Regions from separate parts of the Homo sapiens genome. Here region 2 is linked to region 1. A link means that fine-mapping ties the variant in region 1 to the plasma level of a protein whose gene starts in the linked region. Region 1 holds a variant in brackets. A gene starts in the other region. All regions are shown on their reverse strands. Region 1 overlaps ZNF563 (zinc finger protein 563). Region 2 holds the start of PLA2G2A (phospholipase A2 group IIA).

What was found. PIP is the posterior inclusion probability: the model's chance that the variant is causal. The UK Biobank Pharma Proteomics Project read protein levels with antibody pairs (Olink). The fine-mapping took linkage between variants from a reference panel, not from the people measured, so its PIPs are less certain.
Region 2: PLA2G2A starts here. The variant in region 1 is fine-mapped to the plasma level of the PLA2G2A protein (UK Biobank, PIP above 0.99).

Annotation. Positions count from the first base shown.
Region 1 is chr19:12,316,435-12,320,960 of GRCh38, reverse strand. ZNF563 (zinc finger protein 563) reads left to right here. Exons shown (of 4, transcript NM_145276.3): 4 at 1,128-3,484. The coding sequence ends at 2,367. Among named protein-coding and RNA genes, the nearest start is that of ZNF563, 15 kb to the left of the region's middle. The variant C/T (reference allele first, on the strand shown) is at 1,993.
Region 2 is chr1:19,977,353-19,981,352 of GRCh38, reverse strand. PLA2G2A (phospholipase A2 group IIA) reads left to right here and starts at 1,735. Exons shown (of 5, transcript NM_001395463.1): 1 at 1,735-1,773; 2 at 2,474-2,619; 3 at 2,829-2,973; 4 at 3,232-3,338. The coding sequence starts at 2,580. RefSeq lists an enhancer at 2,592-3,091.

The sequences.
Region 1 (4,526 bases):
GGCATGTTTCCCAGGCTGGTCTTGAATTCCTGGGCTCAAGCAATCTGCCTGCCTTGGCCTCCCCAAATGCTGGGATTACAGGTGTGAGTCACTGCACCAGCCTAAATTTATTTATTCTTAAAAAATTTCCTCCTAAAACATTTTATAAGAATTTACATATGAGGCTGGACATGGTGGCTCATGCCTGTAATCCCAGCACTTTGGGAGGTTGAGGCAGGCAGATTACTTGAGGTCAGGAGTTTGAGACCAGCCTGGCCAACATAGTGAAACCCTGTCTCTACAAAAGTACAAAAGTTAGCTGGGCATGGGGGTATGCACCTGTAACCCCAGCTGCTTGGGAGGCCAAGGCAGGAGAATTGCATGAACCCAGGAGGCGAAGGTTGCAGTGAGCCGAGATTGCGCCACTGCACTCCAGCCTGGCGACAGAGCAAGACTCCGTCTCAAAAAAAAAATTAGCCAAGTGTGTTGGTGCACACCTATGGTTCCAGCTACTCATGAGGCTGAAGTAGGTAGATCACTTGAGTTCAGGAGGTCAAGGTTGCATGAACCATCGTTCTGCTACTGCACTCCAGCCTGGTGACAAAGCAAGATACTGTTTCAAAAAATAAATTAATTAATTAAAAAGAAAAGGAAAAAAAAAAAACCCAGCTGGTGTTGGGTTGTCTTGCATAGCATTCAGTTCATTCATGTTCAAACAGGGCATGAAGCCTACACTTTGCATGGTAATGATAAAAAGGTATATCTGGCCAGGCGCAGTGACTCACTTCTGTAATCCCAGCACTTTGGGAGGCCAAGGGGGGGTGGATCACGAGGTCAGAAGTTCGAGAACAGCCTGGCCAGCATGGCAAAACCCTGTCTCTACTAGAAATACAAAATTAGCTGGGCGTGGTGGCGTATGCCTCTCTAATCCCGGCTACTTGGGAGGCTGAGGCAGGAGAATCGCTTGAACCCGGGAGGAAGAGATTGCAGTGAGCCGAGATCGTGCCGCTGCACTCTAGCCTGGGTGACAGAGCAAGACTCCATCTCAGGGAAAAAAAAAAAAAAGTACATCCAATACCTATTAATACACATAAATAAATAATCATTTAGAAACAACTATTTAGTAACGTACTACTCATTTTTTACAGATGTCATATGGTAGAGAGATTCAGTGAAAGTAAAGACAGTAGTCAGTGTGGAGAAACATTTAGCCTCATTCGAGATAGTATTGTGAACAACAGCATTTGTCCTGGAGAAGATCCATGTCAAAGCGCTGAGTGTGAAGAAGTCATAATGGGTCATTTATCCCTTAATAGCCACATCAGAGTTGATTCTGGACACAAACCACATGAGTATCAGGAATATGGAGAGAAGCCACATACACATAAACAACGTGGGAAAGCCTTCAGTTACCATCACTCCTTTCAGTCGCGTGGAAGGCCTCACACTGGAAAGAAACGCTATGAGTGTAAGGAATGTGGAAAAACCTTCAGTTCTCGTAGAAACCTTCGAAGACACATGGTAGTGCAAGGTGGAAATAGACCTTATAAATGTAAGTTGTGTGGGAAAGCTTTTTTTTGGCCCAGTTTATTACGTATGCATGAAAGAACTCACACTGGAGAGAAACCGTATGAATGTAAGCAGTGTTCTAAAGCCTTTCCTTTTTACAGTTCCTATCGAAGACATGAGAGAATGCACACTGGGGAGAAACCGTATGAATGTAAGCAGTGTTCTAAAGCCTTGCCTGATTCCAGTTCCTATATAAGACATGAAAGAACTCACACTGGAGAGAAACCATATACATGTAAACAGTGTGGGAAAGCCTTCAGTGTTTCCAGTTCCCTTCGAAGACATGAAACCACTCACAGTGCAGAGAAACCCTATGAGTGTAAGCAATGCGGGAAAACATTTCATCATCTTGGAAGCTTTCAGATACACATGAAAAGGCACACTGGAGATCGACCTCATAAATGTAAGATATGTGGGAAAGGCTTTGATCGTCCCAGTTTAGTT[C/T]GATATCATGAACGAATTCACACTGGAGAGAAACCCTATGAATGCAAGCAGTGTGGGAAAACGTTATCTCATAGCTCAAGCTTTCGAAGACACATGATAATGCACACTGGAGGTGGACCTCATAAATGCAAGATATGTGGGAAAGCTTTTGTTTATCCTAGTGTATGTCAAAGACACGAAAAGTCTCACAGTGGAGAGAAACCCTATGAATGCAAGCAGTGTGGGAAAGCGTTATCTCATAGCTCAAGCTTTCGAAGACATATGGTAATGCATACGGGAGATGGGCCGAATAAATGCAAGGTATGTGGGAAAGCCTTTGTTTATCCCAGTGTATGTCAAAGACATGAAAAGACTCACTGGAGAGAAACAATATGAATGTAAACTATTATAAAGCCTTCTATATTTCCAGTTCCCTTTGATATCATGAATAAACTTACACTGGACAGAAACCCTATAAATGTAAATGTGGGAAAGCCTTTCATAATTTTTATTCCTTTCAAAATCATGAAATATCTCACACTGGAGAGATGCTGTATGATATAAGGAATGTGGGAAAGTGATCGATTTTTTTTTAACACCATTGTCAACATAAAACAACTCACAGAGCAGAAAAACTCTGTGAGTGTAAAATATGTAGGGAAGCCTTCAGTCATTTTGGTAACTTAAAAGTACATGAGGCTGGGCACAGTGGCTCACGCCTGTAATCCCAGCACTTAGGGTGGGCAAATTGCTTGACCTCAGGAATTTGAGGCCTGCCTGGGCAAAATGGTGAAACCATGTCTCTACAAAAAATAGAAAAAGTAGCAGGTGTGGTGGTATGCCCCTGTAGTCCCAGCTACTTGGGAGGCTGAGGTGGGAAGATCTCTTGAGCCCAAGGGGTGGGGGTTGCAGTGAGCCAAGATGCACTGCACCCCAGCCTGGGCGACAGAGCCAGACCCTGTCTCAAAAAAAAAAAAAAAGTACATGAAAGGATTCACTCTGGAGAGAAGTCATATGAATGTAAGAAATGTAGAAAAGCATTGAGTTCTCTCAGGTCCTTGCATAGACATAAAAGGACTCACTGGAGAGATACTCTATAAATGTGTGAAATGTAGGGAAGTATTCTTTAATGTTATTTCATTTCAGATAGAAATAATTCTCATTGGAGATAAACCCTATGAATGTAAACACATAGTAAAGCCTTAATTTTAAGCCTCAGTTTCTTTCAAATACAGTTATCCCCTAATATTTGCAGGAGCGTGGTTCTACCACCCCCTGGGCATACATAAATCGACACATGCCAAGTCCTTTTTTAAAAATGACATATTTGGTACAAAATTACCCGGATGTGATGGCACATGCCTGTAATCCCAGCTACTCAGGAGGCTGAGGCAGGATAATCACTTGAATCCGGGAGGCGGAGGTTGCGGTGAGCCAAGATCGCGCCACTGCACTCCAGCCTGGGCAGCAAGAGCAAAACAACCTCTGTCACACACACAAAAAAAAAAAAAAAGGAAAGAAAGAAAAGACATATTTGGGTTAGACACAGTTGCTCACCTCTGTAATCCTAGCACCTTAGGAGCCCAAGACAGGTGGATCACTTGAGCCCAGGAGTTAGAGGCCAGCCTGGGTAATGTGGCAAAACCCTGTCTCTACAGAAGATACACAAATTAGCCAGGTGTGGTGACATGTACCTGTAGTCCCAGCTACTAGGGAAGCTGAGGTGGGAGGATCGCTTGAGCCTGGGAGGTTGAGGTTGCGGTGAGTCAAAATCACATCACTGCATTCTAGCATGGGCAACAGAATGAGACCCTGTCTCAAAAAAATAATAACAATAAAAAATATTTGCATGTAACCTACCCACATCCTCCTGTATACTCTAAATCATCTGTAGATTAGTTAAAATACATCATGCATCATAGAAGCTATGTAAATAGTTGTTATTATATTGTTTAGTGAATCATGATATGAGAAAGACCCTACACATATTCAGTACAGACCCACCCACATAATACATGTCACCTAGAGCATTATAAATCTTTTCTTTCAACACTCATAGATTGCTTTTGTTTAATGACCTGAAAATGTGTTAACATTCACCCAACAAAAGTGTAATGATGATTATTGCAATATCGTGCCTAATGTTGTGATGTGTTGAGTCAGCTAGATGTGTGACACCACAGATAAGCAGTGAGACCTCAGGCTAACTCGAATCTTGACAGGATGTCAACATGATCAACTATATTGGAAGAAACAGATTCTGACTGCAGATACTGAATTTTTGGAGCAGTCTAAATAATACTAATGTCAGAATCTGTTCAATTTGAGGACTGAAGATCTTTAAGCATTGAAGGCTGTCTTCATATTTGCAGATATTTAATTAGAAACATTGTAGGAAGCTAGTTTTTTTTTTTTTAAACTTTGCAACGTTTGTGAGCATGTAATCTCTGGGGTGACATGGAGGCTTTGTTCCATGGAAGAATCTTAATTGAGGATGATAATCTTTAACACTTGCGCCTTGTAGAAGCTGTAGGTGCCCTAAAACTGCTTCCAAT
Region 2 (4,000 bases), not on the chromosome of region 1:
TGGCAGAAATCAAAGGGCCCAACAGGGTTGATTCCTTCTGAGGGCTGTGAGGGAGAATCTGCTCCATCCCTCTCTCCTAGCTTCCAGTGTTTTCTGGTAATCTTTGCCATTCCTTGGCTTGTAGAAGCTTCACCCTGATCTCTGCCTTCATCTTTGTATGGCCTTCTCCCAGTGTGCCTGCCTGTCTCCAAATTTCCCATTTTTGTAATGACATCTGTCATCTTGGATTAGGGCCCATCCTAGCTGCCCTAGTGATCTCCTCTTAACTAATTATATCTGCAATGACCCTATTTTTAAATAAGATCACATTCTAAGGTACCGGGACTCCAACACAGGAACTGAGAGCAGGAAGGAGGACCACAGTCCAACCCCTTACACAGTCGAGCACTGGAGGTAAATGGTATTCTCGAGAGGAAAGCTGTTTGATGGCTCTTGGGATAGATTAGGTTATGCTCCAGCAACTGCCCATCTCAATTATCATCAGCTTAATACAACAAAAGTCTATTTCTCACTCACACTAAGACCCCTGTGAGCTGCAGGACTTTCTAGGACAACTGTCTTCCGTGCCATGATTCTTACACCCCAGATTGCTTTCATCTTCTGGTTCTACCAGTGGGGCAGGGAAGGGCTGGGGAGTTGCATCTCATAGTCCCCTTGCTGGAGAAACCTGGAAGTGACCCTTCATACCAGTGCTCATGTTTTACCAGTCAGCAGCAGGGCCCTAGGTCTCCATCCCTGCAAGGGGCTCTAGAGTGTAGGGAACAGATGGAATGTTCACAAGCACCACAGCCCCTGCCACAGTGACTTTTTTAGGACTGGTATCGCAGAGTGTTTACTTAAGGCGGTGGAAGCTAAATTCTTAGCATGTGCTGGAGAGCAATGAAAAAGATATTTACTTTATGAATTAAAGCTGGAGTCAGTGTCAGCCCGAAGGCTGAAGGAAAAAGAGCAACAGATCCAGGGAGCATTCACCTGCCCTGTCTCCAAACAGGTGAGGATGGGGAATAAAGTGAAGGCAGTGCTTTGGTGGGAACTTCAAGGATAGCCTCTGGCTTTTTCCAGGTTTAGAAGCTCATATGAGACAGGGGTGGAGGAAAAGAAGAAAGAAGAATAAGAAGAGAAAGTTGAGGCCCTGGCCCAAGTTAGTGGGAAGGGAAATCCACCCCCATTAAACTCTCTCCCTGGTGGACTGTGGGGTGCACACGTGAGGCCTGCACAGGTGCTGGAACATGGTAGAGGCCCAGGACATACTTCCTGTGAATGAATGATTGAGCGGCTGAATGAATGAGTACCACTAAAAGCCCTCTTTTCTATTCCCAAATGCCACATTGAGCAGAAGGGAGCAATCCTTGCTCAGCAATTGGTAGTCCCTTTGGGTGTGCAAATGAGTCCACAGCCTGCAACAGCAGACAGTCTCTGCCCCCCTTAGAGGCGATTGCAGGGAGGTGGCTGACCGTTGATCACACCCAGAGCTGGTTATGGGAATTTACTCCATGGAAAGACTGCAAAACTGCCTGAAATGTGTTTTGGCATCAGCTACTGACACGTAAGGTTTCCCAATCCTCAACTCTGTCCTGCCAGCTGATGAGGGGAAGGAAAGGGATTACCTAGGGGTATGGGCGACCAATCCTGAGTCCACCAACTGACCACGCCCATCCCCAGCCTTGTGCCTCACCTACCCCCAACCTCCCAGAGGGAGCAGCTATTTAAGGGGAGCAGGAGTGCAGAACAAACAAGACGGCCTGGGGATACAACTCTGGAGTCCTCTGAGAGGTAAAGAGCCAGCGAAGCTGATGTCCTGTCAAGAGCAGAATTCCTGCTCATTCGCTGCCTTTGAGAGTGGCTGTGTTGTGCATGCATGTGCATGATTTGATATGTATGAGAGGGTGTGTGTGCATGAGTGTGTTGAGTGAGTATGTGAGTGTAGTGTAAGAGAGGATGTTGGCACTATCAGGTAAGTACGAGAGTGTGTGTATGTGGGCATAGGTGTGTTAACATGTATGTGTTTGGGAACTTGTGTATGTGGAAGGGGTTAGAAGGCCTAGAAGAGAGAGGTTGATGCTTTCATTCTGGAGGAAAATACTGAGGCCGAGCCTCCATGGGTGCCTTGGAGACTCCAAGCCTTGAATCCAGTGTGGGGATATGCAAGCTATGTCTAGCGAGGGACACATCCTCTGACCTCAGGAACCTCCCAGGTAGTTGGGAGGAACCTGGTTCCAACCTCCCAAGAACTCTCAGTCTGATGAGGTACAGGGGAGGTCTCATTAGTGTATCATGGGGTTCTCCACAGGTCTGAGGGCCTGATGTGTGTGAAACCATTCTGCAGAGCTGGGAACGGGTCAGGAGGTGGTTGTGTGTGTGTGTGTGTGTGTGTGTGTGCATTGCTGGAGGGCACTCCTTGTGTGCTCTGAGTGTGACAGAGGAAGTCACCCTGGACTTAGGTTGGATGGGAGAGCATGTCTGTGTGTCTCAGAGCCACCAAGGAGGAGCAGGGGAGCGACGGCCGGGGCAGAAGTTGAGACCACCCAGCAGAGGAGCTAGGCCAGTCCATCTGCATTTGTCACCCAAGAACTCTTACCATGAAGACCCTCCTACTGTTGGCAGTGATCATGATCTTTGGTAAGAGCTGACCCTGACCTCTGAGCATGGGGGGACAGCCCCAGAAGGGAAGCACTCTTGTCCCTTAGTTTTCTCTCCCATTGCAGTGATCCTCTCTCAGGGGGAAAAAAGAAGCCATTTGGGAGGAAGGAGAGTAGCAGAGAGGGGCAGAGAGGGAGGGCGCAGAACCCCATGCCCCATCACCAGACAACTCCCAAATTTCCTTCCAGGCCTACTGCAGGCCCATGGGAATTTGGTGAATTTCCACAGAATGATCAAGTTGACGACAGGAAAGGAAGCCGCACTCAGTTATGGCTTCTACGGCTGCCACTGTGGCGTGGGTGGCAGAGGATCCCCCAAGGATGCAACGGATCGGTGAGGCCACCTATCCCTCCCTACCCTCCTAGACTCTGGCCCAGGCAGGGCTGGGAGCTGCAAAGACAGTGCCGGTTCCTGATGGGCGCAGAGGTCTCAGGATGGCCTGGCTGGAAAAGCAGCCGGCATGTTGGAACTTCTGCTCTAGACTGTTGCAAAGTCACTGGGTCTCTGCCCAGGGTCCAAGGGGGTGAGACCACAGGCACCAGGCCTCCTGGAGCTGTGGGACAAGAGCCCCAACAGGGTGTCTCCTCACAGCTGCTGTGTCACTCATGACTGTTGCTACAAACGTCTGGAGAAACGTGGATGTGGCACCAAATTTCTGAGCTACAAGTTTAGCAACTCGGGGAGCAGAATCACCTGTGGTAAGAGTCCTACCTCACCATCGAGTGGCCCTCATTTGTTTAGACAGTGCTGGGGACTGTGCTGGGCACCAAAGATAGACACAGAGGGACACAGTTCCTGCTTCAGGAAGCTCACGGTTGAGTGGGAAGCCAGGAAAGTGAAAATCCAATGTAGTAAAGACTCCAGTGGGAAGTAAACAAACAGATAAGGCATTAACACAGCCTGAGGCTTGAGGAAGGCTCCTGGAAGGGGTGACCCCTAAGCTGAGTCTGAAAGGCTGTGCAGAGAGTCAGGGAAGAGGAGGGAGCATTCCCAGAAGAGGACACAGCATGGTCAAAGGCACTAAAGGGCACTGTAAGCCATTCTGTACTGCCCAGCAGAAACATGAGGAAGAGGAGCAGTGCTGAGCCATGATGCTGGAGACATAGGAAGGAGCTAGGTCAATCCGGCCCTCCAGGCCGGGCTGTATTTAGGTTTTGCCCTAAAGCAATAGGATGCTATTAAGCAAAGGAGCTACAGGGTCAGATTTGCATTTTAGATGACTCACTGTGGGGACAGGGTCGATGGAGACAAGTGGAAGGGGGGCAGAGAAAGCTATTGCCATCATGCAGGCAAGAGGGAGTAACATCTTGACATAAAACAATGGAGGTCAGGATGGGAAAGGTGGAGAAAAAATCAAGAT